4 linked regions of the Homo sapiens genome follow. The protein of the gene in region 1 interacts with the protein of each later gene in a pairwise test. Each region holds a gene or a part of one and is shown on either strand. Other genes may lie near its edges. The genes, in order: WASHC3, BFSP2, PELI1 and IKBIP.

The links.
Region 2: the proteins of WASHC3 (region 1) and BFSP2 interact in binary tests that used the Homo sapiens proteins (3 or more experiments, as listed by UniProt).
Region 3: the proteins of WASHC3 (region 1) and PELI1 interact in binary tests that used the Homo sapiens proteins (3 or more experiments, as listed by UniProt).
Region 4: the proteins of WASHC3 (region 1) and IKBIP interact in binary tests that used the Homo sapiens proteins (3 or more experiments, as listed by UniProt).

The regions. Positions count from the first base shown.
Region 1 is NC_000012.12:102,044,372-102,052,372, forward strand, and holds part of WASHC3 (WASH complex subunit 3), read right to left. Parts: intron 1,749-8,001; coding exon 1,683-1,748; intron 1-1,682. UniProt on the Homo sapiens protein: Acts as a component of the WASH core complex that functions as a nucleation-promoting factor (NPF) at the surface of endosomes, where it recruits and activates the Arp2/3 complex to induce actin polymerization, playing a key role in the fission of tubules that serve as transport intermediates during endosome sorting.
Region 2 is NC_000003.12:133,444,507-133,452,507, reverse strand, and holds part of BFSP2 (phakinin), read right to left. Parts: intron 7,104-8,001; exon of another isoform or gene 6,933-7,103; intron 5,192-6,932; coding exon 5,109-5,191; intron 4,020-5,108; coding exon 3,863-4,019; intron 3,728-3,862; exon of another isoform or gene 3,613-3,727; intron 2,206-3,612; coding exon 2,044-2,205; intron 1-2,043.
Region 3 is NC_000002.12:64,105,807-64,113,807, reverse strand, and holds part of PELI1 (E3 ubiquitin-protein ligase pellino homolog 1), read left to right. Parts: intron 1-1,135; exon of another isoform or gene 1,136-1,245; intron 1,246-5,428; 5' UTR 5,429-5,497; coding exon 5,498-5,568; intron 5,569-8,001. UniProt on the Homo sapiens protein: E3 ubiquitin ligase catalyzing the covalent attachment of ubiquitin moieties onto substrate proteins. Involved in the TLR and IL-1 signaling pathways via interaction with the complex containing IRAK kinases and TRAF6.
Region 4 is NC_000012.12:98,627,789-98,635,356, forward strand, and holds part of IKBIP (inhibitor of nuclear factor kappa-B kinase-interacting protein), read right to left. Parts: intron 6,626-7,568; coding exon 6,508-6,625; intron 1-6,507. UniProt on the Homo sapiens protein: Target of p53/TP53 with pro-apoptotic function.

The sequences.
Region 1 (8,001 bases):
ATTCTTTTGAAGAACTTCTCAAAAATCTAATTTAGTTTACATAACCATCATTTTCAAAATATAGACAATCCTAGTGTAAGGACTGAGAGCCTGGTCTTTGAAGTCAGACTGTCAGGTTTAACTTTTAGCTCTACCACTCACAAGCTGTGTGATCTTGTGTAAAACTCCCTGTGTCTCAATTATCTCACCTGTAAAGTGGAGATAAGAACATGTACCTAGAAAAGTTGTTGTAAAAATATTTCTATTGATAATACTTCGAAAAAAAAGGGCTTTGTGCAAATTTTGAGTTTCAATTATCTAGGATATGACAAAACTCTTGTCTTTACACTTTAATGTGTGACACAGCTCATTCTTTTTTCTTTCTTTGAACATTCACCACTGAATGTTATTAAAATATGTTTCTTCTATGCAAAAAAATGGGCATATTGTTGGTATTTCAACCTGAAATGGTTTAGCTTTCACTATGAAATAGTTAAGCATTTCAGGTTAGATCTGCGAGACCCATACAAACCTTCTTTTCTGAGTTCATCCTGATATCAATGACACGCATTTGTCGATGTTTGGCTAACTTTGGGGATGACTCTATGGCCATGGAAATAACTAAGGTTAACTTGTCCATATGGTCATTTAATGTGCGACCTTGGACTCTAACTCCCAGGAATTCCTTAAACATTAAAATAAGACACATATTCACATTAAAATAAGACACATATTCATTATAAAGAATAATAATTAAAAAAAAAACCAATGGTAATAAGATCTCAAGCAGCAATACTCATTGAGAACTGTTGACTGATAACCATAGTTAGCACAGTGGCTATGGCCCAAATAGTTTCAAGTGGGTATGGCTGCTAGAGGACTATCTTGAACATGTTCAAGACCGGGTTTCCAAACTAGAGAAATGTTCTAAGAGAAACACAGTTGCTGAAGTCCATAAAGAGACGTAGAAAGTACAAACTAGACATTCTGGTCATATTAAAAAGGGATATCATTTTTTTCTTCCTCATAAATATTTACAGAATATTTCTTAGTTTTATTTTGGTAAATGGACAAAGAAAATATTAACTTCAGGAAAGTTAGTCATGAAAATACACTAGTGTCTCCATAACTTTATAAACAGAAAAAACACATGTAAAAAAATATTAAAAATGAAACCAAAGACATCACTGTTATCAAAATCTTTAAGCTTGCAATCTAAAACAGTCTTCTATTTTTCTTAGTTATTATTTGCAATTTCTGACATCAAAACTGGTATTCCTCATTAGCATTTAAGGTATCTGCAAATAGAAACAGCTGATATTGTCTCTAAAATTTGCTCTGAGACATCTAAAGATTTATATTAGTATTGTATTATCAAATAATAACTAGTAAAATAAATCTGGAATTTTCTATCAAATGAAGTGAACTAGATAACAGCTCAGCTTGTTAACATGTTACTCGCATTATGCGTTTGCCTAGCACAATGAAAGAAATCGCAAACCATGTGTACATTTGAATTAATGGTTCATAATGAACACCATTTTCTTTGCAACTGCAGTAAAATTAAAAACACAACCAGTATCACTTCACAGATACAGAAGTTAAATGGAATCACTCCCAAATGCAATGAAAATTAAGTATGATTAAGAAAGCTGGTATATGCACAGCAAAGTTTATACTACAAATTATTGAGAAATACCAACCTTTGCATCTAAAATATTGAGAGTTGTTTCAATTTGTTGGATACGAAGTGAAAGGTCTGCCAGTTTCTGTAAAAGAAAAATTAGAGACATAAAGACTTTAATTAAAATAAACTGTTAACAATAACTAAGGGCAGATATGAAAATATTAAAAACCATTAAATATTTGTCATATTCTAATACAGTACTGTCTTATTTACATGAGTAGGAATGAGAACTCTTCTATTACGTGTATTATAATGCTTCTCAGTTTCTTTTTTTTTTGGGACGGAGTCTTGCTCTGTCGCCAGGCTGGAGCGCAGTGGTGCGATCTCGGCTCCCTGCAACCCCTGCCCCCTGGGTTCAAGTGATTCTCCTGCCTCAGCCTCCCGAGTGCTGGGACTACAGGCACGTGCCACCACGCCCAGCTAATTTTTGCATTTTTAGTAGAGATAGTGTTTCACCATGTTGGTCAGGATGGTCTTGATCTCTTGACCTCGTGATCTGCCTGCTTGGCCTCCCAAAGTGCTGTGATTACAGGCGTGAGCCACCGCACCCAGTCGCTTCTCAGTTATTTTATAAAATTATATTCACTTATAACAAAGTTGACATTTTCTGCAAACTCATTATCAGAGCAGTAAACAATTGTTGAGACCAGAATATAAACAAACCAGGACAGAGCCTTTTGTTTACTACTGTACCTTTAGTGCCCAGAATAGTACCCTGACACTTAATAGGAGCTTAATAATTATTTGTTGATGAATGAAGAAATTTTTTCATAGAAAATAAAAGAATAAAAATTATTCAAAGACACGCTGCAACAAGGTCTGCCTTTATAAATTACTTAAATGCATCAGCATATACAATTCGTCCCAGATTTAAACATCTGTAGTTTGAAAAATAAAGGGGAATGGAATTGGAAGATGAGTAATTCATTTTGGAAAGAGAAGAGAAAAAACTAGAGTATTAAAATCTACTATCAAAATGCAAGATAAACCAGATAGAAGAGCTTATCATGCTTGTTACTCTGTATAATTAAATTGTCAATGTACCTCTGTGTAAATATACACCTATACAAAGAAAGGTAGCATCATAAAATATGACCATTCAAGTAAAGAACATTTACTTGAAACCTCCTAATCTTAAACATTATATTCAGTCACATAATCCAAGAGCAGTTGCCCAGTTTACAAGCTGGCAGATACACAGCATCCTGATTGTATTCTGGGATATTATTAAGATCCTGACTATTAAGTAGAACTTTACCATCCTGTGAAATGGTCACTTTGCCCACAATTAGAGGGGGCAAAAAACTGAAAGTGGCCACAAAGCAGATAGTGCTTCTTTACAGATCACTTATTTTTAGTTTAGCATCTTGATATCGACAAAGACATAATCTACAAATAAAGTATTAGGATCTAGTTTTCATGGTATCAAAGCTAAGTTTACCCTTGACTTCTAGAATTCATTCACATAAGGCTTTTAGGTAAACACCAATACAGGTTTATAACATGTATTATGAATGAATCCCTCTCCAAATTATAAGTGTATTCCTTAAAATCATAGAAATTTAATTTTGGCAAATCTAATCAGTCTCAATTCACTAGAGAAAAAATTCCACAGCAAATTAATATGTAAAGTGAATGAGAATTTCCAACTTATTTAAAAATGGACATATTGGTTTGATTGAAGGAAACACAAAAGGAAACAAAAAAATGGAATTAAAAATTTTTCTGTTTTAATATACCTATATATTTACTTTTAAGCAATAATCATCAATACTGTAAATATCTGAGTATTTACCTTGCTACATATGGTACAGTGTATATGCAACATATCAATTGAAATCTTACACCAAATCTATAAAGTAGGAACTATTATGCCAATTTTAAAGATGAGAAAATTGAGTCTCATACAAGTAAAATATCCTGAACTCAAACCCTCCAACTCCAGAGGCAATACACTTCACGAGATTTTTTTGAGATAATTTTACACTGTTAAAACATAATGGTAAATTCTTGGGTATTGCACAGAATTTTTGTTATCCAAAGCTAACAAATGATCAATTCGTTTCTCACTAAGATGATTCTGTGCCAAGAGGAAAAGCCTTTTGCTCTTCTGATTCTGAGATGATCATTTACAAAGTGGTTCTGAACTACAGTACATGAACTAGGATGAGAGAAAAAATTCTACCTTTATTTTTATCTACTTCTAGCTTAAATTCAGCATTGTTTAAAAACATAGTTAAAAAAAAAATCACCATAGGCTGGGCACAATGGCTCATGCCTGTAATCCCAGCACTTTGGGAGGCCGAGGCAGGTGTATCATCTGAGGTCAGGATGGTCAACATGGTGAAACCCCAACTCTACTAAAAATACAAAAAAAATTAGCCAAGTGTGGTGGTGTGCGTCTGCAGTCCCAGCTACTCAGGAGGCTGAGGCAGGAGAATCGCTTGAACCTGGAAAGCGGACGTTGCAGTGAGCTGAGATCACGCCACTGCATTCCAGCTTGGGCGACGAGTGAGACTCCGTCTCAAAAGAAAAAAAAAAGAAAAAGAAAAAAAATCACAGTGGTTTTAGGATCTAAGACTGTCACCAATAGAAATCATAGTTTTTTTTTTAAATCACATCACAATTGCTGCAGATTTCCTTATACTTCAAAATTAAGGTTATTAGACATATGAAAGGATTATATAATTTAATGCTTTAATAAAGAACCTACTAGTATGTCATAGTTTTAAATTTTTTTAAGTATATAACTGGTTTCTTTTGTAATCCTATGCATTTTATTCTATCCACCTGAAAACATTAATTTGGTTTCACTAGACTGTCAAAGGGTCCATGGCATGATTAAGAAAGAACTACTTTTCAAAGATAATTCAGTATAATAAATGGTTTTGTATGTTCCAGTGTAATTATTGGTATAACATACCTGAATGTATACTTTTTAAAGAGCCATTGTCAGGTGAAAAGGTATACCTGGGTTCATTTATGGGCTGCTGAAGTTCATTTCTAAGATGTGTATGCTTGTGGCATTTTCCTTATACAATCCCCAGACCACTATAAAACAAGTTTTTCAATGCTAGCTATATTGACATTTGTGGGTGAAATATTCTTTGCTGCAGGGGACTGTCCTGAGCACTACAAGATGGGTAGCAGAATCTCTGGTCTCTATCCACTAAATGCTAGTAGCACTCCCCAGTTATTACAATCAAAGACACCTCTAGACATAGCCATATGTCCCCTGGTTGAGAGCCACTGCTCTAAATTATGGATGACTGTGGATATAACATAAGTAACATAATCGGTGACAGTAGCTGTTCTCACCTCTGAAAGTTTTAGCAAGAGGAAATGGAAAGGTAACAGTCTTTCCCATCCATTTAACCATCGTCTTCATGAAGACTGAAAACAAACTTGAAATGCTATGGTTTGGGATAACAGGGGAATTTACAAAGTCCCTGATATTTGTCAGATAAGCTGAAAGCTTGATTTACTACCCATGTATTTCCAAGGCAGTACATTTTATAAAGTTAAAAAAAAAAGGACAAAAGAAAGAAGGAAATATGGAGTTACTAGTTGAATATGGAAACAAAATAAAATGCTGGTTTTTCATGGTTGTAAAATATCTTGTTTATATATCCATTTCTCTAAAAGAGAAACAGTATTTTAAGATAATGGATCTCTTGGTATACCCCACTGTGTTGCGTGTGCCCCAGAAGCCAGAAAAGGAAGCAATGAATGGTTTTATTAGGTTGTGTCTGATACTTAAGCCCAGCAGTGGTTAAAGATATAAGAGCAAATAAGGATTTAAGCAAAATATTATCTGATTAAAGGTTAAGTCCAATGGCAGGCTAAAAAAATGAATGTAGAAGATAAGCACTAAAGAAACTTTCAGGTTATGTGACAATTCTCAGCACTTTTGCTTGTACCTAAAGATTTTAGAAAAAAGAAAAATTTCAGAATTTAAAAAAATTATTTAAAAATCCAGTATCTTAGGCATGTAATAAGTCTGAGTTTGGCTGAGGGTGCTTGTAATCCTAGTACTTTGGGAGGCCGAAGCAGGCAGATGAGCTCAGGAGTTCAAGACCAGCTTGGGCAACATAGGGAAACCCTGTCTCTACAAAAAATACAAAAAATTAGCCAGGTGTGGTGGCACGCACCTGTAGTTCCAGCTACTTGGGGCGCTGAGGCAGGAGGTCTAGGCTGCAGTGAGCTAAGTTCACTCCACTACACTCCAGCATGGGTGACAAAGTGAGACCCTGTCTGACAAAAAAACAACAAAAAAAGTTTGAATTAAAATAACATTCTGGCCAGGTACAGTGGCTCACGCCTATAATTCCAGCACTTGGGAGGCCGAGGCCGAGGGATCACTTAAGCCCAAGAGTTGGAGACCAGCCTAGATAATGTAGTAAGATGCCATCTCTAACACACACACACACACACACACACACACACACACACACAATTAGCCGGGTGTGGTGACACATGCCTATAGTCCAAGCTTCTAGGGAGGCTGAGGTGGGAGGATCACTTGAGCCCAGGAAGTTGAGGTTGCCCTGAGCTGTGATCACGCCACTGCACTCCAGCCTCGGTGATACAGCAAGACCCCGTCTCGGGGGGAAAAGAAAAGAAAAAAAAATTATTAAACAAACAAACAAAAAACCAAAGTAACACATTTGGCACTCCTGTTTATAAAGTACCTTTGACTTTAAAATTCACTATAAGGTTAAATGCTCAGGTTTCACCTGCAATATGCATAGAGCTTATGTTGCTTCCTGCCAACCCCTCAAAATTTGCAGTCCCAATGGATGACCATAAGATTTTGCTGACTAAAGCAAGAATAAAAATGCTCACTGGGGATTTGTGATGGAAGAGGAGATGACCCTAAGTACCTCTGTAATGTGGGTCTGATTCTACTACTTTCTCTGTCATCTAATCTCTCTTCTACTCTGGTGCCAATCACTGGAAGAGTTACAAAAGTAGCCTAATATGCAGAAAGTTTTTGCAAAGTTGAGTTCTTCACAGAATGCAGTTTTATACTCTTCTCTTTAATGAAGAACTCTAGAAACAGTGCCACTGATGAAGAAAGAACCCTAGCAATTTGTTTCAAACTTAATTCTGGCTTGAGGGTTTATCTGTGACTGAAGTTGTTTAAGGTTGGGTTTGGTTCAAACCAGATCCTGTCGGGGGGTGGGAAAAGTTTTCTTTTTCCTCCCAGTTCACTCTCAGTTCAAAAACTAACAGTTGAGGTTCCTCTTTTGTTGAGAGAAACAGTCAGTTGGTTCTTGTTTGAGGCTTTAAATAAATAAGGACTAGAGGCCTATTAGGCACTATTAACAAAAACATTTCAAAACACCAAAGTGACTTTACCTTGGGAGAAAATGGCACCTTACATTTGAATACATGTATCTTTGGAATTGACATAAAAATATATTACATCAAACAGACATAGCATAGCAAAGAAGTGAATGAGTCTAAAAATAGATTTTAATATAGCTATAAGAAGGTACTTGTACTGCACTCTCTCACTTGAAGTTGACATAAGCATGCTTCTTAATCAGATAAAGCAGTGCAATGTAAGAAAGCAATGAGATATTGACTTTTCCAGTTAAAAAATCAGTGGGAATCCAGTTCTGCTACTTTCTATCTGTGTATGTGCAGCTAATGCAGCTACAACTACTGGGGGCATGCAAAGATATGTTGAATGAATGAATGACTAAGCAAATGATTTAAACTTCTCTACATCTTAGTTTCTGTATCTGTATGAGTGGGATAACTAAACCTCTCTCAAAGGACTGACTGCGATAATTAAATACACATAAAGCACTTAGTATGATGCCCAGCACAGAGGAAGTACACAATAAATATTAGTTGTTATCTCATTGAGCAGTCTCCAGCTGACATGAATATCCAAATTGCTAAAATATATATTGTAGACAATCAGTTACAGTCAACCCTAGATTATCATACATAAAGGAGAAAAAGGTGGGACAACAGCAAGATGGGGGAATAGGACTTTCCAGCACTGATCCTCCCACAGAAACATCCATTTGAAAAACTATTCACGCACGAAAATACATTCTCAAGAGCTAAGGAGACCAGGTGAGAAATTACAGCACTGGGTTTAGCACAAAAGTAAGAAAAAACACACTGAAGAGGGTAAGAAGGACAGTTTTACAGAACTCATGTCACCCTTCCCCCAACTCCAGGCAGCACAGCATGGAGAGAGATACCCTCCAGGTGGGCGAAGGAGAGGCAGTGAGCACAGGACTTTGCCTTGGACCACAACACCAGGCCCACCCCAGCAGAACTCAGTGCTGAGCAAGCCCCCTCAGCCCAGACTC
Region 2 (8,001 bases), on another chromosome or scaffold:
CTTCACTTTACCTCTGTGTTGCTCCACTTCTCATCAGGTTGGGTGGGGCGAGGGGAAGTCATTTTTTGAATAACTAGGCTCTATTTGCCATAAAAAAGTGTTTGTAGTGACCTGGCTCAATGATTGGTGGTTAGAAAGAAAGGAAGCTATTGAAACGGGGTAGGGGTTGGAGAAATGGGTGAGTGAAAGGATGTTTTCTAGGCTGGAGAACATTTTGGGAATCCAGAATTGATGAAGACCCTGCTGGGAAGGTTCTTGTTGATACTTGGGGGATAGAGGGAGTATGGTGGGAGAAAGGACAGAAAAGCCTCTCCTATTTTTCTTTTCATAGCTTTTTATAATTCTTATGGTTCTCAAATCTGGCTGCATATTAGAATCATCCAGAGAGCTTTAAAAATCACAAAGTCCCTCTCCTCTGTCTGATTTGGTTGGTCTGGGATGGCGATTTTTGAAAATGCTCTGAAATAATTCTGCTGCGTAGCCAGGATCAAGAACCACTAAATAGTAATCAAGAGCTCAGAAACAGCCTTTTGCCTTAACTCAGACATCTACCTTATTTTCTCTACTTTTCCACATTTTCCTTCCTTGTCACTTTTCATCCTCTGTCTCAAGATTACAAAGTCAGAAATGGGTGGGAGATGGAGAAGGGAAGAACAAACCCTATGCATCCTATTTTCTGGTTAATTCCTGTATTATTTATGAGGTTTAATAAAAGTTGTTTTTCTTCCATGAATATAATGTATACTATTTAACAAAAACTTGAGAAATACTCAAAAACAAAAAAGAAAAAACATCTCAAAGTGTCAGACTGATCCATCACTCAAAGGCAACGACTGCTAATCCCATTTTAGTCTTTTCTTTCTAAAATTTTTTCTCAATGCCTAGTTTCTTTGTTTGAATGCTTTACCCTACTGTATATACCAGGAAGTGGCAAACTGCAGTCCACAGGCCAAATCCATCTCACCGCTTATTTTTGTAAATAAAGTTTTATTGGAACACAGCTATGCTCATTAGCTACCTATTGGCTACAGCTGCTTTTACACTGCAGTGGCAGCGCTGAGGAGTTACAACAGAGGCCATCTGGCCCAAGAAGCCTGAAATATTTACTGTTTGGTCCTTTACAGAGAATATTTTTTGGCTTCTGGCATATACCATTCTGTACTCTCATTTTCTCCTCATTTTACCTCATATTATGAACACATTCCTATTTTATAAATGCTTCATAAACATTAATTCTAATAACTGCCTGATATTTTACTGCACATAGGTAGGTTGTGGCTTAGATTTTCTTCTACTAGTAAATGTGTATGTTTTTTTCACTCTTATAATGCTTCAGTGAGTATATTTGGACACAGATGATTTATTTTTTCAAATATTCTTTTTTTTTTTTTTTTTTTGAGACAGAGTCTTGCTCTGTTGCCCAGGCTGGAGTGCAGTGGCCCAATCTTGGCTCACTACAAGCTCCGCCTCCCAGGTTCACACCATTCTCCTGCCTCAGCCTCCCGAGTAGCGGGGACTACAGGCACCTGCCAATGCGTCCGGCTAATTTTTTGTATTTTTAGTAGAGACAGTGTTTCACCCTGTTAGCCAGGATGGTATCGATCTCCTGACCTCATGATCCGCCCGCCTTGGCCTCCCAAAGTGCTGGGATTACAGGCGTGAGCTACCACGCCCGGCCTCAATTATTCTTTCAGGATTGTATTCAGATTATTCAGTTGGTAGCTAGGGGCATTTTAACACTCTTGGTGCATATTACTAAATTTCTTATTCAAAGGCAGTGCACTAGTTTATGCTCTTCAGTAATACAGTAGAGAACCTACTTCTCCACATACTTGCCAGCATTTTTACCATTTTAAACATTTTCTACTTTTAGATAGGTAAACAAAAAGCTATTATTTTAATTTTCATTTCTTCTGTTTCTAATGAGGTTGAACTTGTTACTAAACCGTTGTTATTTCTTCGTCTGCACATTGACTAGTTTGCAGCTCAGCGTGGCCTCCTTCTGCATAGGGCAGAGTGGAGGATGCTGGTCCTGCCTCTCACCTTAGCTTGGAGCAGGGCTCCTGCCTCCACCCGGTTCTTTTCAACATCTCTCTCCCACTGAATTCTGATCGTCTCAAGGATGTCGTCCAGACCAGTGCCAATGGGAGCATCCATTTGTTCCAGCTCACACCCTGCCAACTGTTTGTGCAGCAGCTTCACATCCTGAAAACAACAATATACATCTTAGATGAGTTACGGGGGGAAATAAATGGCATAGAATTCTAGCCAGCAGAAAACCAGCTCTGTGGGCAATTCTTTTCTCATTCCACAACTGCCAGACACAGGCTTCACAGAGACTGGGAAAGTCCCTGACCTTCTTCCCAGCGTAAGTGTAATTTCTCTTTTCCCAAGGATGCATTTCTCCCTCTCTCCCTCCCTTCCTTCCTTCCTTCCTTTCCTTCTCTCTCTTTCTTTCTTCCTCCCTCCTTCCCTCCCCCTCCCTCCCTCCTTCCTTCCTTCCTTCCTTCCTTCCTTCCTTCCTTTCCTTCTTTCCTTCTTTCTCTTTCTCTCTCTCTTTCTCTCTTTCTTTCCGTCTGTCTTCCTCTCTCTCTCTCCTTCCTTCCTTCCTTCTTTTTTTTGACAGGGTCTCACTCTGTCACCCAGGCTGGAGTGCAGTGACATGATCTCAGCTCATTGCAGCCTCCATCTCTTGGGCTCAAACAGTCCTCCCACCTCAGTCTCCTGAGTAGCTGAGACTACAGGCACAGGCACGGCACACACCACCATGCCCAGCTAATTTTTGTATTTTTAGTGGAGACAGGGTTTCACCATGTTGCCCAGGCTGGTCTTGAACTCCTGGGCTCAAGTGATCCCCTGCCTTGGCCTCTCAAAGTGCTGGGATTACAGGCTTGAACCACCATGCCTAGCACCAAGGATGCATTTCTTAGGTTGGTCTCCACAAGCCCAGGCCCAAAGCAGAAATCAAAATAAAACAAACAAACAAACAAACAAACAAACAAACAAAAAACCACATGTATACATATGTAACTAACCTGCACATTGTGCACATGTACCCTAAAACTTAAAGTAAAATAAAACAAAAACAAAAACAAAAACAAAGTAAGCAACAACAGCACAGGGCATTTATGCATAAAGCCAGACAAGGATGAAAGAGACTTAAAAGATAACTTTGGCATCTCTAAATGGTTACTGTTGGAGAGTAGTCTTAAATCACTGAGCTAAGAACAAGAAGAAATGGGCTTACAGTTGCTGGTTAGCTTAAGTTGGTCTCAAGAAAGAACTTCCCAATGTGAGCATCGTTAAGTGGGTTTTGACTCTTTCAACTTGAAGCAGCCTAAATCTTGGATCAGACAGTAATATGTGTGAGGTGGTTTAGAATTGCTGAAGTCTCGCAGGGAACTAGACCCCATAACTGTTGGAGGTCCTCTTCAGTTCTGTCACTCAATAATCTGACCCAGTTTTGTTAATGAGTAGATGTCAACCACAGCTTGGATCTACCCTCAGAGTTGTTTTGTTTGTATAATACAGTGTTGAAAAAAAAACCTGACATAGAATGCATTGAGGAGGGGTTGCTCCCTCTAATTTAACACAAGTTCCCTCATTTGCTAGTGCCAAGACTGGCTGCCTTCCCCTGTTTCTGTACCACACTGGTTCCTGAAGCTATTTGAGTTTGAGACTGCTGGGGTAACCTGACCCACTTCAAGGATCTGAAAGTATTTTACAGGTATGTTCCCTGCAGTCCTGGGCACGCAATGTGGAGAGTCAGAAATGAGCTACTGTGGCCTTGTTATGAAGCACAGGCAGACAGATGTGAACTTCTGGTCTTGTGGCCAACCCAGCAACCCCAGCCCCCTCCTACCTCTTCATAGTTTCTTGATAGAGAGCCAAGTTCTTCTTTCAGACTTTCTATTTGACTCTCCAGGTCCATTTTAGTCAAATTAGCCTCATCAATGACTTTATACAGAGAGTTAATTTCCTCTTCTGCCGCCTTTCGAAATGGCTGCTCATTTTCATATCTGCAGATAAAGGAACTTAATTAGCATAACTGAGTAGCCCAAAAGAAAAAGAATCAGATTATAAATGTTACCAACAGGCCAATTATGTGATAGTTAGACAATGAATGGTAAAAGTCACTGTTTCAATAGATTTGAGGGCACTGTTAGTGCAGTTGTCACACATTGATTTATTAAAATGAAGGCAATTGCAGCCAACTTCTGATAACCTGGCTTCCCGGGCTACCAGCCTCATGGGAGTGTTGCAACACAGAACTCCAGGGAAAACTCAGGAGTTCAGATCCAGGTTAGGGGATCCGGCATCTTCATCGCTATCCTGATTGTCCTCCTTTTCAACCAAGGATCCTTTAACAAACATTACTGACAACCTGCTAAGCACCAGGGTGGGGACCCCAAAATAAGAAATGTGGTTTCTGTCTCCAAAGCACCCATGTTAAAAGTGTCCATCTCCAGGAGAGTGGCTGCAAACCCAGATGCCTTCAGGGACTGAGTGGGAGGTGTAGCTGAGCACGGTTCTCAAGCCTGGATGCACATTAAGTCACCTGGTGAGCTCTAAAACTGCTGAAGCCTGGACCCAACCCCTGGGGACTCTGATTTAATTAGTCTATGGCTTGTGCACTGCACTGACATTTTTAAGTGCCCAGGTAATTCTGATATGCCCAGGTTGGAGAATCATTACTGTAAGCTAGTAGTTCTCAAAGTATTTGAGTCCCAGGACCAGCAGGATCAGCATCCCTGGGAACTTGTTAGGAATATAAATTTGGGGCCCTTCTCCAGACCCATTGAGTCAGAAATTCAACAGGGTGGGGCGCAGCAATCTCTGTTTTCTATATGGCCCCTGGGTGATTCTGAGCATTCCAGAGTTTGAGAACCCTGCTCTAAACCAACTGACAGTGGGCAAAATCTTTGAGCCCTTGGGGCCTACTTTATGTTTACAAGGAGGGGTGTGAGCTGGATAATCATGGCTCTGTTATCCTGCCAGCTTCCCCTGAGGTAGAAGGTGGATGATGCAGGCTCCAGAACAGCATTATCCACACTTGCCTAGGAGTCTAGGGATGTGGAGGGACTGTCGCCTCTGCTGTAAGACATTACCTCTCTTTAAAGTCATCTGCTCCGGCCTGGATAGTTTCTGTCTGCAGCATGAGCCGGGCATTTTCCAAGACTGCCTCACCCACCTAGAGCGATCACACACACCAAAGGAGACAAGGTCACTGGGAGCGTCAAGATCACTTACCACCATGACTTGTGTTAGGCACAGAGGCTCTGGGGGACCTCAGAGAACCTTTCTTACAGCAAATATTTGTGGAATTAAGATGTCCCTCTCTTTGGACAATGGTCAGGGTGGGGGGATATAAATAATAAGGCATAAAATCTGGATATCTTCTAAGAGTTTTTAGAGTGGGATTTTTGGCACAAAAAGACTATTCAAAGGCAGACTTGTTCATAGCCTCTGTCACAGTGACAAGCTTTCATCTCTCCAGGGCAGAGTCCGGCTCCTTAGATGAAGTTTCACTGGCTTTGCCTAGCAGCTCTTAAAATTTCTGGTCATGGATGCCTTTGGAAGGCTGGTGAAAGCTCTAGATGAGTGCTGAGAGAGCTTCCTGTGACGGTGGAAATGCTCTGTCTGCACTGTCCAGCATGGTGGCCACCCGTGGCTACCGTATTGGGCAGCGTGGCTCTAGAGTTTCGTCTCCCCCAAAACATACACGTGAACATAAACATTGTGGATATAGTTTAGGGGTTTCATGGAGCCTTGAGGAGTGGTTTTTCAAACTTGAATCCCCAAGCCTCTCAGGATCTCCCACAGGTAGGGAATGAGGGGTGTCCTCCCTTCAACCCAAGAAACTCCTTTATATATATATATATATATATATATATATATATATATATATATATATATATATATATATATATATATATAAATGGTGAGCTGAAGGCTCTGATAGGGGGAGCCTGCAGGGTGGAGCCAAATCCCAGCTATGGGAGAAGAAAATAACTGCTTTCCCCTTGCTCCAGTGTGGCTGTCTTATTTTGTTTCATTTCATTGAATTACTTTTTTTGTTTTTTCTTTGAGACAGAGTCTTGCTTTGTTGCCCAGGCTGGAGTGCAGTGGCACAATATCTGCTCACTGCAACCTCTGCCTCCCAGATTCAAGATATTCTCGTGCCTCAGCCTCCTGAGTAGCTGGGATTACAGGCATGTGCCACTGCGCCCAGCTAATTTTTGTATTTTTAATAGAGATGGGGTTTCACCATGTTGGCCAGGCTGGTCTCGAACTCCTGACCTCAAATTATCCACCCATCTTGGCCTCCCAGAGTCCTGGGGTTACAGGTGTAAGCCACCAAACCCTGCCATTTTCATTGAATTCCCCACTAGCAAAGCTAATCATTTCTGTTCCAGCTTGGCCTGGGGCACACTGGGGAGCAGGCAGACTAGGGTGTCTCCCTTTCCCAGTTCTTAATCACTCCTGTCTCTCACCTCTGGTGCCTGGAGTTCTCCTTCTGGTTGATAAAGAACTTGCAACTCATTCACATTTAAGTATCAAAGGACTAATATTGGCTTAAAATAGTGATTTATATCCTTCTTTTAAGGTAACAATTCCTACCCTCCAAAATTAAAGCTTATAGAAAACCTATGTACAGTTGTCCTTTGGTATCTATGGGGTCTTGGTTCCAGTCCCCCACGGATGCTCAAGTCTCTTATATAAAATGATGTAGTATTTGCATATAACCTACACACACATCCTTCCATATACTTTAAATCATCTCAAGATTACTTATGATACCCAATACAATGGAAATGCTATGTACATAGTTGTTATTTATTGTGTTATTTAGAAAATAATGACAAGAAAAAAGCCCACATGTTCAGTATAAACGCAATCATCTATTTTTTAAAAAATATTTTGATCTACAGTTGGTTGAATCCATGGATGTGGAACCCATGGATGTGAAGGACTGACTGTACTTTGCACTAGTGGTTCTCAAAGTGTGGGCCCTGGACCAGTGGCAGCAGCATCACCTGGGAACTTGTGAGAAATGCACTTTTCAGCTCCTGTTTCAGATGGACCTATCAGAATCTCTGCAGGTGGGTCCCAACAATTTGTGTCTCAGCAAGCTTTCCAGGGGCTTATGATGCATACTCAACCTTGAGAACCCCGGTTTCACATGGCCCTGCCCCCAGGCCTGCTCTAGCTGCCTCCCTGCTGCACCTGGAATCCCTCTGTGCCTTTGCACCTGCTGCCTCCATTGAGAGCAACTTGTTTCACTACCTCCCCACTCCCAGCCCTCAGTCTGAGAAAGCCTGCTCCAGTATAATGCTCATTTCAAACACGGCTTCCCCATGAAACTTTTCTATTTATTCACTCATTCATTCTTGCCTTAATTTCTTCAGCACATAATTACTGTTTATGCCAGGCTCTGTCCTGTTTGTTGAGAAACCAGCCGCTACTGTAGGAGATGAGGTTAAAAAGGTAGACAAGACCAGACCATAGAGGGAAGGCCTTGGGCACAATGGAAAGGAGTTGAGATTTACTGGGAAGCCTTTGAAAGGGCTTGAGCAGGTTACAGAGGTGATCTGTGCACTAAGTGGACCCTCTGACTACTGTGGGAAGAGAGGATTGGAGGAGGCAGGAGAAGATGCCAAAGAACCAGTCGGGAGGCTCTTGCGGTGGTCCAGGGAGCCCATTTTATTAATGATGGTGGCCTGGACGAACGATGTGATCATAGGGTAGGTGGAAAAATGTGGACTAGTTTAAGATGCATTTGGGGGATAGAACAGTCGGTTCTTTGTGGTGCAGTAGTTATGGGGAGAGTGAGGGAAAACAATTAGGGGTGACCGCTCCGTTTCATCCTGAGCTGTAGAGAGCATGGTGGGGCCTTTGCTGATTCTCTTCCTCCCTCATTGGCTGGTTCCTGCATCTGAGTCACAGCCCACCCCTGTGGCACATTATCCCTCTCTTACCACATTTAGTATAAATACTTTG
Region 3 (8,001 bases), on another chromosome or scaffold:
AGACTTGATATGAAAATAATTGTATTTCACTGGCCCTTAAAAAGGAAATGATTAGAATGTTTAACAGTCAAATTAATAATACTATTCCTAATAAATACATATTTTATGAGTAACTTTTCATGTTCTCCCAGCCCACAAAGAAAATAACACTATTCCAGAATATGTTTATTTTAAAATTTTTTTTTAACTCTGGAAGTTTAGTTCCTGCTAATGAGAGCAACATGCTTTCGAGTATCAAGCAAAGTTTCAAAGTAATAGATAAAATAGAAGACAGTTTTATTAGGAAGATTTTCTTTAGCATTTCTTCTAGTCTTGAGTAGAATTAATGGTGCTATTTCATGTTCTTGGTGCTAGATAACATTGGGATAGGGCTGAATACATGAGGTCAAACTAACTTAATTGAAGACCAACAAATGAAGCCAGTAATCGAGACATTCGGATGTTTTTTATGTACATACTCATTTAAAGTTCTCAAGTACATGACTTCAGGAATTTTTTTTTTTTTTTCTTTTTTTTTGAGACAGAGTTTCTCTCCGTCACCCAGGCTGGAGGATCACAGCTCACTGTAGCCTCAAACTCCTGGGCACAAGTGATCCTCCCACCTCAGCTTTCTGAGTAGCTGGGGCTATAGGTGCATGCCATGACATTTGGCTAATGTTTTCTGTTTTTACTTTTTTTTTTTTAAATCTTTTGTAGAGACGGGAGTCTTACTATGTTGCGCAGGCTGGTCTCAAACTCCTGGCCTCAAGTGATCCTCTCACCTTGGCCTCCCAAAGTGCTGGGATTACGGGCATGAGCCACCATGCCCAGCCTAGGAATTCATTTTGAAGAATTCTTTTACTCAGATTTTAAAATATAGAGAGAATATATAAAGACAGTGAGTAGGAAAGCATTGTCTAGGTACTGGTCTTTGTTAAAGAGTATAAACCTTTGGGAAGATCATGAATCTTTCTTCAGAGAACACATAAAAAAAAAAGTTCCAGGAAGAATAGCTGTCACAGCATTTTATTTGCAGTTTAATAAGGCCAGTTGTATATTGATTGATTATATGCCATTTTTAAATTTTGAAAACTATCTTGGGTCATTTATGTATATAAATAACTGGTACTACAAAAGTGTTTTATTTTGGGTTTAGATTATCAAATACAGAAGTAGAAGCCAAGATTGAATGTGTTCCTGTGATTGAAACTTTGATGTCACTGATAAAATATCCCCAGATAAGGCCTTCTAAGAGATCTAAGCAGAGTAAGAATATGTCTGATTGGAAATATATTGTTTTTCTTGGCTAATTTGACCAAGGGCTCTAGAAATTATATGGAGGGTATATGCCAGCCGTACTCTTGTTTTTTAGTTTCTTGTCTAAGCAAAAAAATTGTTCTTTTGCTATAGACGCAATAGAACTAAATCTATAGTGTTATGCACGTTACTTGTAAATTCTTATGTCAGGACCAAATGGTCGCTTATATTTTTTCCAGCTCCCAAATTCCCTTTATTCCACTTTAGTCCCTTCATTTTCAGAGATGAGGAAACAGATTGCTTTGTTCAAAGACAGCTAGAACTAGAACACAGGCTAATACTTGCTAGCCATGTGATATACTAATGTCAGCCAAATACGGGCATTTACACTTTCAGATGTTTGCCATATCTGTGCACTTACTAATTCTATTTAATACAATTTAAATTGACTCCTTTAAATAAGCTTATTTTAAAGGAAATTTTTTGCTACTATAAATAGAAAACCATTATATCCTTTAAATAGTAACTCTAAATAGGAATTCAAAACAAAGCAACGTTATTAAAATTTAATTTAAAATTAATTTAAATTTAATTGTTATTAAATTTTTAATTATTGCTGTTCTTCGTCAGAAATGTGTCAAAGCATTGTTTTCATGTTTGATGTCAGTTCCTTAATTGTCTAAACAGAAAAAGCACAGCTAATGCCTCTAGTTAAGCTTCTGTATAACTTTTTTAAATGAAATGCTTCTTAGAGGGGAAATGAGAGGGCATGAATACATGTTTATATACTAAAGTATGATTTCATGTATATCAGAAGATCTTATTATATGGAACCAAAATTATTCTTTGGTTGATTTAATTGTTCTTGAAACTTCAGTTTTTACCTTGAAGGTTTTAGTTAGCTTAGCATAAGTTTATTTTTCTAAATAAGGAATCTGATTGCCTCACAACTCAGATGTATCACAGTTATGGTGAAATAGCAATATATTGGTTTCTGTAACCTTTTAAATACCGTAATGAATTAAAATCTCTTCAGCAAAAGCAAATATATCTAGGGTGACGAGAGGTGTTTTTAGTGTATTTGAATGATGGAAATGTTTTTCTTAAAATATTTCTGAAGCATTTTTTAAAATAATTTTTTGAATTTATTGATGATAGTAGTTGTGTGTTAGTGTGAATGACTGGTCTAAATGTGTATGTCACTTCCAAGGGATTAGTAGGGGTCAGAATGATTTGTTTTATTCATTGACTTTTCCTTTGACGTGTTCTTATTCATTGGGCTACATACATTCCCTGTTGCCTTCTCACCAAAAGTGCCACTACACAGGCTGTATTTCATTGTACTGTAGAAAAAGACAAGTAGACCTTTTTCATTCATGAGATTCCTATGAAATCTGTTGGTGGAGGTATAAAATGAGGAGACTTTTATGGGCTAGCTAGTAGGAGTTTTGCTGTGAAACCTTTGTAACAGGTCTATCAGGAACTAGGGAGAGAAATAAATGCAGGAAATACTTGATCCCATTAAACTGAGGATGAAAAAGACATGATAATATTTTGGGGATTATTTATTGTGTGATTTTCCGGCTGATCAGAAGTGTTAATTTTTTGTTATACTTGTGTCAAATACATATATATATATATATTTTGAAATGGAGTCTTGCTCTGTCACCCAGGCTGGAGTGCAGTGGTGCGATCTGGGTTCACTGCAACCTCTGCCTCCAGGTTCAAGTGATCCTCCTGCCTCAGCCTCCCGAGTAGCTAGGACTACAGGCACGTGCCACCACGCCCTGCTAATTTTTGTATTCTTAGTGGAGATGGGGTTTCACCATGTTGGCCAGGCTGGTCTTGAACTCCTGACCTCAAGTGATCTTCCCACCTTGGCCTTTCTGAACTATTTCCTTTACACACATTTAGAACTACATCTAACTGTATTATAGTTTTCACTTTCACCATCAGACAAAATTCAGAAGATTCAAGAGAAGGAAAGTCGATTGTATTTACTCATATTTTTGCTACCGTGTTTTTACATCTCATATTTTAAGGTTCTTTTATTTATTTATTTTCTGTTTAGTTAATTTCCTCTAGCCATTCTTTATTTATAGTGGGTCTGCTGGTAACAAATTCTCTCAATTTTTCCTCGTCTGAGAATGTCTTGACTTCCCTTCCATTTTTGTCAGCACCTGAAAAATACTATGCCACTATCTTCTGGGTTCTGTGGTTTCTGATGAGAACTCCACTGTCAGTCTAATTGTCGTTATAAATGCAGTGTTCTCTCTCTCTCTCTGCTTCCAGGATATTTTTTCTTTTTTTTTTTTTTTTTTTTTCTTGAGACGGAGTCTCACTCTGTCGCCCAGGCTGGAGTGCAGTGGCGCAATTTTGGCTCACTGCAAGCTCTGCCTCCCGGGTTCAAGCGATTACTCCCACTTTAGCCTCCCAAGTAGCTAGGACTACAAGGCACACCACCATGCCTGGCTAATTTTTGTATTTTTAGTAGAGACGGGGTTTCACCATGTTGCCCAGGCTGGTCTCGAACTCCTGACATCAAGTGATCTTCCCGCCTCCGCTTCCCAAAGTGCTGGAATTACAGGCGTGAGCCACTGCTCCCAGCCTCTTTATTTTTTCAGCTTTACTCTTTCTTCTGTCTTTTTGACATGTGTGTCCAGTGACACACGTGTTAGATTTTGCTATAGTCTCACGCACGGGTCTATAAGGCTCTGTTTTTTGTTTCATTTTGTTTTTCCTATTTTCTCTCTATTCAGATCGAGTAATTTCCACTGTTCAGTTTTATCATAGCTGCTTTTAAATCTTTGTCAGGTAATTCTGTCATCTAAGTTTTGGCACCTATTGATTATCTTTTGCATTGTTTTTGTTTTTGTTTCTGTTTTTGTTTTGAGATGGAGTCTTGCTCTGTTGCCCAGGTTGGAGTGCAGTGGCACTGATCTCGGCTCACTGCAACCTCCTCCTCCCGGGTTCAAGTGGTTCTCCTGCCTCAACCTCCTTAGTAGCTGGGATTACAGGCATGTGCCACCACGCCCGGCTAATTTTGTATTTTTAGTAGAGACCAGGTTTATCCATGTTGGTCAGGCTGGTCTCAAACTCCCAACCTCAAGTGATCCGCCTGCCTCGACCTCCCAAAGTGCTGGGATTACAGGCGTGAACCACTGCACCCAGCCTATCTTTTGCATTGTTTTAAATCTTGTTCTTGCTAGGATGAATGATTTTCTGTTAAAACTAGATATTTTCATATTATGTTCCTAGGCTCTGGATATTATCTAAACCTTCTGTTTCCACTGGCTTTTATTGACACTGCTTTGGCAAGGTCATAGGGGGTGCCTCATTACTGCCAGGTGGACATAGAAGTCAAGGGTCCCTACTCAGCCTCTACTGATGCCTCAGGAAGAGGATCCTTCTTGTTATTGCTGGGTGGGGGTGGAAGTCTAGCTGACACCTACTGAGGTAGGTGCTGGGGCATGCCCGGCCATCAGGGTGAAAGTCCTGGCTCCCTAGTTGGCCTACTTTTACATTGCCCTAATAGGGCATTGGAGCTCCTCACTATGGTTTATGAGCTGGAAGTCAAGGCTCCTCACTTAGCTTTCGTTGGTGTGGGTGGTGGTGGGGCAAAACTGTTTTCTGGGTTTGGCTGGAGTGGAGCAGTTACTGTCAAAAGTTTTCTGTCTTGCCAGGCTGTCCCTTTCTTGTTTCTTTGGCTAGAGAGAGCAAGCTTTTGTTGTGGCTCTTTTTGTCTGTGCCAGTTGGCATTTCCAGGTTGCTGCCTTCTTTAGCTCCAAGTCTGGGATATATTAGGCAAAAAGAAAACCCAGAGAATTTACACCACCGTGTCATTCCATGGGTCCTGAGGTCCCTTACTTAGTCTGCCTTCTCTCCACTTTTCACAGTCTTCTCATGTTTTGTATATAATGTCCAGGGTCTTTAGTTATACTTAGCAGAAATAAAAGGGAAAAGTATGTCTGCTCTATGCTTCTGTAAGTGGAAGTCTTCAAATTTGCATTTTTGATTCCTTTAAACAGTTTTGTAAAATATATAATCATTATTGGGCAAAATGTCCCATAAAATGTATATACCTTGTGATGGTTTGCATAATATTGTGTTCAAGAGGACTGCTGAAAAATAACATCTTTATTTAAACTGAAACGAATTGTTCACATTATTAATGAAAACTTTTCCCCTCTAGGAAATAATGCAAAAGGTGTCCCAAGGCTCCTGACCAGTGAACAAAGATTTGAGAAAGACAGCCAAGCTCATGTTTTCTCCTGATCAAGAAAATCATCCATCTAAAGCACCAGTAAAATATGGTGAACTCATTGTCTTAGGGTAAGGTTTCTCCATTTGATGACACACACAGTTTAATAATATATGCTAACTTTGGCATCTAGGCTAAAAGTACTTTTTTTTTTGGAATTTATATCTTACCTGCTTCCAAAAAGAATTTAAAGCTACAGGTAATGTTACCAAATCAAGAAACTCTTTTACTTCTCATATTCATGCCATCTTTTAAAAGCACTCAAATATGACATAAGCTTTGTCTCACCCTTACCCACAGAAAGGGCAGAGTTTCTCAAAGATGAAATGGAAAGTCCGGGCATGGTGGCTCACGCCTGTAATCCCAGCACTTTGGGAGGCCAAGACAGGCAGATTACCTGAGGCCAGGAATTCGAGACCAGCCTGGCCAACATGGTGAAACCCCATCTCTACTAAAAACACAAAAATTAGCCGGGCGTGATGAGGCATGCCTGTAATCCCAGTTACTTGGGAGATTGAGGCAGGAAAATTGCTTGAACCCTGGAGGCAGAGGTTGCAGTGAGCTGAGATCGCGCCACTGCACTCCAGCCTGGGCAACAGAGTAAGACTCTGTCTCAAAAAAAAAAAAATGAAATGAAATGAAAAATGTTATTTATCCACTGTCACAGTCATTCCATTTGTCTTCCCTATCCCATGTTTTGCCTCAGCTGACTTTACCAAAAATTCCCTTTCCCTTCCCTGCTTTAAGTCATTTCATGTAGGTTAGTCTTCATTTATTCTTTTGCCTCTCTACAGTAGTTATTGCTTTGTGCTGTACATTTGGGTTAAAGGAGTTGTATATGTGTATGGTGACAGCATAATGCCTCTGAAGCCCAGGACCTAGCTACTTCTTAGCTCCTAACGTAATTTCATCCATGTAACTCACAGAAATAGAATCTGAAGATTGAGGAATAGATGATTCTGTTATTCCAAATTATTTCAATTTATTCCACTTAAACTTGCCATTAACTATCAAAATGGAGACACAGTATTAGCCTTTCCTAACTAGAGATCTCAGAAACTAGAAAATTGCTCATTTTAGGCCAGGTGCAGTAGCTTATACCTGTAATCCCAGCTTACAGGTGGGAGGCCTAGGTGGGCAGATCACCTGAGCTCAGGAGTTCGAGACCAGCCTGGCCAACATGGTGAAACCCCATCTTCACTAAAAATACAAAAATTAGCTGGGCATGATAGTGCATGTCTGTAATCCCAGCTACTTGGGAGGCTGGGGCAGGAGAATCACTTGAACCCAGGAGGAGGAGGTTGCAGTGAGCTGAGATCAGCGCCACTGCACTCCAACCTGGGCAACAGAGCAAGACTCCGTCTCGAAAAAAATGAGAAAAAAGAAAATTGCTAATTTTATTTTCCCCCTACTGTTTCCCTCCTTTTGCCTAAAAAGCAACTCTAGATATTGCGGTATGTTTGAGAGTCAGGTTGTTAAAGTGAGAATGCGTTGTTTCAGTTGAGATAGTAAGAGAAACTGGGGAAATCATATGGAGTTACTGAGCTTGACTGGATGTTAGGAATCCTAGAATCCGGTGCTTGTTCAGCACTGCTAGCTGTGTGACCTTGGGCAAGTCACTGAACCATCCTGGGCCTTAGTTTCCTTGTCTGTAAAAATGACAGATAAGATCATCTAAGGCCCTTTGAGACTTAAAATTCTTTTCTCAGAAACAAAGCTTTAAAAGATCATAAATTTAGCATAGTAACTACAGTATTAGAACTTCAAATCACATAGATTTTAATGGTATCAATGACAAACAGCTCTTAACTACCAAAAACTTTTCCAGATTAAATTCTTCTAGCAGGAAATTTGAGAGTCATTTGAAGAATAGTTTAATATTTAGCTTAGGGTTTTAAACCGCCAGTCTTAGCCTATGGGTTCCTCAGTTAATCATTAGCAACAGTAATTGTCTCTGTGTCTGGTACTTGGTGTCTTAAAATGCAGATAATTTTTCTTCTCAACCCTCTAGAAGTGAAGCTGGACAAGGTTTCATGCTGTTGCTGCTTAGAAAAGAGCTTTGAACTACAGGAACGCAATGTGGGACTAAAGAGCAAGATCCAGAAGTGGGATGAGTCATGCAACTCAGAGGACAGTAGTGAAGGGGCAGTGAGGAATCGACAGAGGGTCTGGGGGCAATACAAAGCCTAAAATAGCTAAAATAATTATTAGCTAAGGGGCTGTACTTTGGACTTACAGCAAGGCTAGCAACATTACCAAGGGCTTTCTCCAATACAAAGTATTTTATTTTTTATAAAGGGTCAATGTAGTTTCTATATATGGCAGTCATTGAGTAAACTCTCTTCTCAGCTTTAAAACATTCTTCCTTGCCAGCCACAATTACAGGCCATTTTATAATCACTTCCTCCTCCAGCCTCAAAACTGTCCCTGTTCCCTGCTTCCTTTCCCCCTAGATTGACCAACTACATATGGTAGATCATCAAACCCAAGATTTGTCAGGGGGC
Region 4 (7,568 bases), 3.4 Mb from region 1:
TACAATTTGATATCTTTCCTAAAATCCTATAATTCTGGAAGGGTTTCTGCCAAAAAATTTTTTTGACCAACCTCTTGCAGAGAAAGTACTAGAATCAGGTCTTACAGATACAAAGGCAACAATGAATTAAAAAACAGTTTAGTGAGACAAGTCAAATTGAATGGTAAAGTGTTTTAAGTATTTGTAAATTATGCTAAGCCTCCGGCACCTCCTAATCTGTATCTGGAATATAGAAGGCCAAGTCATTGACCTCTTTTAGTCTACACTTAGATAACAGCTTTAGAGACTACAGGAAGGCCTAGAAATAATCATTAATTTATTATGTGCTTGCAGCATTATGCTGAAGACATAATACTGAACAAGATACAAAATACTGCCCTTAAGCAGCTTTGTTTAATCGACGAGAAAGACAAGTGTATATGCACTATGACAGGTGAAGAGCTATGGAAGCACTCAGGTGGAGACCCAACCTAGACTTCAGTGATGAAGGAAAGTATTTTAGAAAAAGTAATATCTAATATCTGCTTCCAGTTGCTTGCTCTCTAAATTAGCCTACACACTACTACTAGACTAAGCTTTTAAAAACTGGTATGCCTATCATGGTACACTGTTACAAAACCTTTGATGTTTCCTAATACTTCTAGGATAAAGTCTCAAATTCTCTAACCTCTCCCTATGCTATCCTCCTCTCCTCTTTATTTAGTTACATTGTCCTTACTTCAAGGCTCAGACCGGATCTCAGCTCCTCAGAGCAGCATTTCTTCCATAGCCCTAGCCCTGACAACCTGAATTCCTGTAGCACCTATTACACATATATTTGCCACATATTTGCCTCTTAGCACATACAATTAAAAAATTTTGAGGGTTCACTCTGTGCCAGCCTTGTGTGAGACAGTGGAGACAAATACAGCATAGTCCTTGATTTCACAATTTGATTGGGAGACAGTGTTTAGATCTTCCACATCATATATTCTAGAGTCCCAACAAGATCTACTGAGTACCCTGTGTGAGGTAGTTCCATTATCAGGTACTAGGGAAATGGAGATAAAAGATGCAGTGTATGCTCTAAAGAGGAGTAAAGGAGATAAACTAGCAACCAAAAAAATCACAGTAGATTATAAGTAGCGTCACAAAAGAATTAGCACAGGGGGCAATGGATGCTTTGAGGAGAGATAAAAAGTTAGGAGGGCAATGCGAAAAGGCCTGGAAGTGGCTCCAAAATTGGAATCATTAACAGACTGATTGATGAATTAGCAGGGTGAAGATGTGAAAGCTTCTAAATTTCAAAGGAGAAGAGACCATGTCTTATGCCTCTGTGTAATCCCTACATCTCAGAGTACAAAGAATATGTTTGTTGATGCTTAGGAAGAATGACCCTAAGCCTTCTAGGTCCACCCCAATCAAGACTTAAAGAGTATGCAACAAGAATGACTAACACCACTCTGAAATGTTGTTTAAAATTTATTTTAAGGGTTGGGCATGGTGGCTTACGCCTTAATCCCAACATGTTGGGATGCCAAGGCAGAAGGACTGCTTGAGCCTAGGAGTTTGAGACCAGCCTGGGCACAAAGCAAGACCCTGTCTCTATCAAACAAACAAACAAACAAACAAACAAACAAAATTAGTTGGGCATGGTGGTGTGCGCCTGTAGTCCCAGCTACTTGGGAGGCTGAGGTGGGAGGATTCCTTGAGCCCAAGAGTTCAGGGTTGCAGTGAGCTATGATCATGCCACTGCATTCCATCCTTGGTGACCGGGCAAGACCCTGTCTCAAACATACATACATACACACACACACATTTAAAGAAAACAAACAAAAAAATCCAAAGAAATAAAAACCTCTTTTAAATGTACACATACAGCCATAATACAAGTTCCTTTTAAAATCAATTATGAGAAATACTAACCATTAACATGGTTAGGTTTAGTTGTTTTATTAGCAGTATTTTGAAGAGGCAAGCTTATCCTCACCTAAGGTAATGTCCTGTTTAGGAGGTTCATCAGAGCCTCACTATAATCTGAAAGCAGTATACCCCAAGTAAGTGCAAGATGTTATAGATTTAATCTGCAAATATTTAGTGACTAGTATGCCACAGTAGCTAGCATTTATGGGCCACCAACATATTCTAATCGTTTTTCATTTTTATTTACTAAAAAAATTTTTTTTGTAGAGATGGGGTCTCACCATGTTGCCTGGGCTGGTCTCAAACTGCCAGGCTCAAGTGATGCTCCCAACTTAGCTTCCCAAAGTGCTGAGATTACAGGCATAAGCCACCACACCGGGTCTCATTTTTTCTTAAAGAAAGAGCTAGTAGGGCCAGGTGCGGTGGCTCACACCTGTAATCCCAGCACTTTGGGAGGCTGAGGCGGGTGGACCACCTGAGGTCGGGAGATTGAGACCATCCTGGCTAACACAGTGAAACCCCATGTCTACTAAAAATACAAAAAATTAGCCGGGTATGTTGGCACATGCCTGTAATCCCAGCTACTTGGGAGGCTGAGGCAGGAGAATTGCTTGAACCCAGGAGGCAGAGGTTGCAGTGACCAGATCTCCCCACTGCACTCCAGCCTGGGCAACAAGAGCCTGGGCAAAAAAAAAAAAAAAAAAAAAAAAAAAAAAAAAAAAAGAGCTAGTACTTTATTAGTGCTTGATTGTTTTCAAAGAATTTGTATATAAAGTAAGTCCTCACTTAACGTCATTGGTAGGTTCTTGGAAACTGACTTTAAGTGGAACTATTCAGAGCAGCTCCTCCAACAACGTTGTTTCGATGTCCTTTCATTACAACGTAGATGAGAAAAAAATTGGTTTCATTATACACTTCACTTAAAATCGTAGTTTCCAGGAACCTATTGATGACCAGGAACCTATTGATGACGTTGAGGACTTACTGTATATCTCATCTGATCTTTATAAAAATCTTATTATTTCTCACTTAATAAATGATGAAATAGAGATGAAGATAAGTTATAGTGATTTGTCTAAGGTCACACAGTTGGGATGGGTGTCCATGTCTAGCTGTTTTCCCCTCCATCTGGGTTATGCTGCCCTTTAGGGCCACCTTTGTGAAAAGGGACCTCTTATTAAATTACTCCCAGGGCAGAATGGGAGAAAAAGCTACGAAAAGACTGAATATTTCTTTTTTTTCTTTTCATTTTTTTTTTTGAGACGGAGTTTCGCTCTTGTTGCCCAGGCTGGAGTGCAATGGCATGATCTCGGCTCACCACAACCTCCACCTCCCAGGTTCAAGTAATTCTCCTACCTCAGCCTCCCGAGTAGCTGGGATTACAGGCATGCACCATCATGCCCAGGTAATTTTTTGTACTTTTAGTAGAGATGGGGTTTTTCCATGTTGGTCAGGCTGGTCCTGAACTTCTGACCTCAGGTGATCCACCTGCCTTGGCCTCCCAAAGTGCTGGGATTACAGGTGTGAGCCACCACGCCTGGCCAAGACTGAATATTTTTTGGATTCTATAATGATATTTTAAAAATCTGCTTCAAAAGCTTTTTTTTTGAGATGGAGTCTCACTTTGTTGCCCAGGCTGGAGTGCAGTGGTGCAATCTCGGCTCACTGTGACCTCTGCCTCCCCGGTTTAAGCGATTCTCCTGCCTCAGCCTCCTGAGTAGCTGGGACTACAGACACACGCTACCATGCCCAGCTAATTTTTGTGTTTTTAGTAGAGATGGGGTTTCATCATGTTGGCCAGGCTGGTCTTGAACTCCTGACCTCAGGTGATCCACCCACCTCGGCCCCTCAAAGTGCTGGGATTACAGGTGTGAACCACCGTGCCCAGCCTGGCCAACATGGTGAAACCCCGTCTCTACCAAAAATACAAAAATTAGACGGGTGTGGTGGTACACACCTGTAGTCCCAGCTACTCGGGAGGCTGAGGCAGGAGAATCACTTGAACCCGGGAGGCGGAGGTTGCAGTGAGACAAGATCGAGCCATTGTACTCCAGCCTGGATGAGAAAAGTGAAACTCTGTACCACCCCTGACCTCCCCCACAAAAAAAAAAAGAAAAAAAAAAAGGAGAAATCTTGTTCAAAATAAGTTTTCAATAGCTTTTATTTATATTTATTTATTTATTGAGATGGAGTCTCACTCTGTTGCCCAGGCTGGAGCACAATGGCGTGATCTCAGCTCACTGCAATCTCCACCTCCCAGGTTCAAGTGATTCTCCTGCCTCAGCCTCCCGAGTAGCTGGGATTACAGGCGCCCGCCACCACGCCCAGCTAATTTTTGTATTTTTAGTAGAGATGGGGTTTCACCATGTTGGCCAGGCTGATCTCAAACTCCTGACCTCGTGATCTGCCTGCTTCGGCCTCCCAGTGTGCTGGGATTACAGGCGTGAGCCACCGCGTCCGGCCTTCAATAGCTTTTAATTAAATATGTGAAGTTTTGGCAAGGCACAGTGGCTCACACTTGTAATATCAATTCTTTGGGAGGCAGAGGCAGAAAGGTCATTTGAGGCCAGGAGTTTGATACCAGCCTGGGCAATGTAGCAAGACCCCGTCTCTCCAAAAAATTAAAGAAAAAAAAATTAGCTGGGTGCAGTGGCGTGCCTGTTAGTCCCAGTTACTTGGGAGGCTGAGTTGGGAGGAGTGCTTGAGCCTGGGAGGTTGAGCTGTTATTCCAACACTGCACTCCAGCCTGGATGACAGAGTGAGAGCTGGGATGACAGGGAGAGACTCTATCTGAAAAAAAAAAAAAAAAAAAAAAAAAAAAAATATATATATATATATATATATATATATATATATATGAAGTTTCTTGCCCCTGGGATTTCTTCTAATGGTATGTTAGAGTTCCCCCAACAGCTACAACCAGATTCCAATTTTTTTTTTTTTTTTTTTGGGACAGAGTCTCACTCTGTTGCCCAGGCTGGAGTGCAGTGGTATGATCTCAGCTCACTTCTGAAACCTCTGCCTCCCAGGTTCAAGCAATTCTCATACATCAGCCTCCCAAGTAGCTGGGATTACAGGCATGAACCACCATGCTCAGCTAATATTTTTGTATTTTTAGTAGAGACAGGGTTTCGCCATGTTGGCCAATCTGGTCTCGAACTCCTGACCTCAAGGTGATCCGCCTGCCTTGGCCTCCCAAAGTGCTGGGATTACAGGCATGAGCCACTACGCCTGGCTCAGATTCCAATTTGAGCCCTATGTGAAAATACCAACTCCTTTGCAGCTCCTTCCCCAAATCCCTTACACTCACCATCCATGGAATCCCCTGGCATTTGTGAGGGATACTTAATTTTCCTCCATGGCTTTTCTCTTCTGGAGGATTATATGCTCATCCTGTGCATGGGGCTGCAGGGACTTAGATGCTCCATTTCATCTCTATTTTTACAACATCCTTACCCACCCTGGTGCCAAGCATAGGTCCTTGCTTACCTTGTGACATGAGCAAAGGTTTAGTGAATGAATAAATGAACAAAAAGCCATATTTCCCAATGATAGCTTGGTCCCTGGTACCCAGAATAGGCCTACATGATGCCTTATTGATCACAGCTGACTTTGACTTTCTCCTGAGAGGTGTGGGAGTTACAAAAATGTTTATTTGTCTCACATTTCTAAGAATCACAGTAATAACGCATCTGGTAGAAATCAGCAACTTGAAGGAACACAATATAGACATGGTATTATTTTAATTTTCATTGGAATTCTTATTTGGCTACAGGACAAATAGTTACTTTTAGGCTAGCCGTTCTTTTTTTTTTAATTCTTTTTTTTTTTTTTTTTTTTTTTTGAGACGGATCCTCGCTCTATAGCCCAGGCTACAGTGCAGTGGTGTGATCTTGGCTCACTGCAACCTCCACCTCCCAGGTTCAAGAGATTCTTCTGTCTCAGCCCCCCGAGTAGCTGGGATTACAGGCGTGTGCACCACGCCCAGCTAATTTTTGTATTTTTACTAGAGATGGGGTTTCACCATGTTGGCCAGGCTGGTCTCCTAACTCCTGACCTCAAGTGATTTGCCTGGCTCAGCCTCCCACAGTGCTGGGATTAAAGGCATGAGCCACTACTCCCAGCCTAGGCTAGCCATTCTTAAATGCATGTACATATATCCTTAAAAAGCAAAAAGTAAGGGAAAAAATGGATAGATCTTTTCCCAATAAGTGCTATTCATATTCTAATTTTATGTCCAAAGATCAACCATATTTTCAGATGAGATCGAGCGCATTCAGGGTGGTATGGCTGTAGACATGATCAACCATATTTTCAATGCTCTAGATACCTGACACTTAAGTAGAAAATTAACATCATGCTAATATGAACAAATTGGTCTTTTTCAATACTAGAAATTATCATATTAAAAAATCCTTGCCCCTCAAAATGCAATCTGAGTCAAAATGGCTCAGAGGGAGAATGTCAAGAGGTAGGAAGATCAGTGAGAGTTAAAATAGTGATGGTCTAAAAGGCAGGAAGAAAGAAGTTCTGAGCTGGGATAGAGAAATGATAGTGGGGTAGTAAAATGGGAAAACCGTCCCAGATAAGCCAATTAATGATTACCTTTTCTGAAATTAAACTGATTTTACTTTGAAGTTGTTGGAATTCATTGGTTTCTAGTTTCAGTAACTGGTATTGGTTTTCCACCTTTGCAAATTTTTCTGACTGCTGAAATACAAACCTGGAAAAGAAAAGAAAAATCACTATTCTCCAATTCATATCCATTTAAATCCGAATTTCAAAGGAGAATTATACCCACTTCTGTTAAGAACAACATAAATTCTGGTATGGGTAGCTGTAGGTTTTTTTTTTTTTTTTTTCACACAGGGTCTCACTCTGTCACCCAGGCTGGAATGCAGTGTCACAATCATAGCTCACTGCAGCCTTGAACTCCTGGGCTCAAGTGATCCTCTTACTTCAACCTCCCAAATAGCTAGGACTGTCCATCTCGCTATGTTGCCAAAGGTGGTCTTTAGCCTTTTTTTTTTTTTTTTTGAGATGGAGTCTCACTCTGTCGCCCAGGCTGGAGTGCAGTGGCGCGATCTAGGCTCACTGCAAGCTCCGCCTCCTGGGTTCACGCTATTCTCCTGCCTCAGCCTCCCGAGTAGCTACGACTACAGGCGCCTGCCACCACGCCTGGCTAATTTTTTGTATTTTTAGTAAAGACGGGGTTTCACTGTGTTAGCCAGGATGCTCTCGATCTCCTGACCTTGTGATCCACCTGCCTTGGCCTCCCAAAGTGCTGGGATTACAGGCGTGAGCCACCACGCCCGGTATTTTTTTTTTTTTTTAGATGGAGTTTTGCTCTTGTTGCCCAGGCTGGAGTGCAATGGCACGATCTCGGTTCACTGCAACCTTTGCCTCCTGGGTTCAAGCGATTCTCCTCCTCAGCCTCCCAAGTAGCTGGGATTAAAGGCACCTGCCACCACGCCCCACCAATTTTTTAATATTTTTAGTAGAGATGGGGTTTCACCATGTTGGCTAGGCTGGTTTTGAACTCCTGACCAGTGATCTGCCCGCCTTGGCCTCCCAAAGTGCTAGGATTACAGGCATGAGCCACTGTGCCCAGCCCCAAGGTGGTCTTGAATTCCTGGCCTCAAGTGATCCTCCCCTCAGCCTCCCAA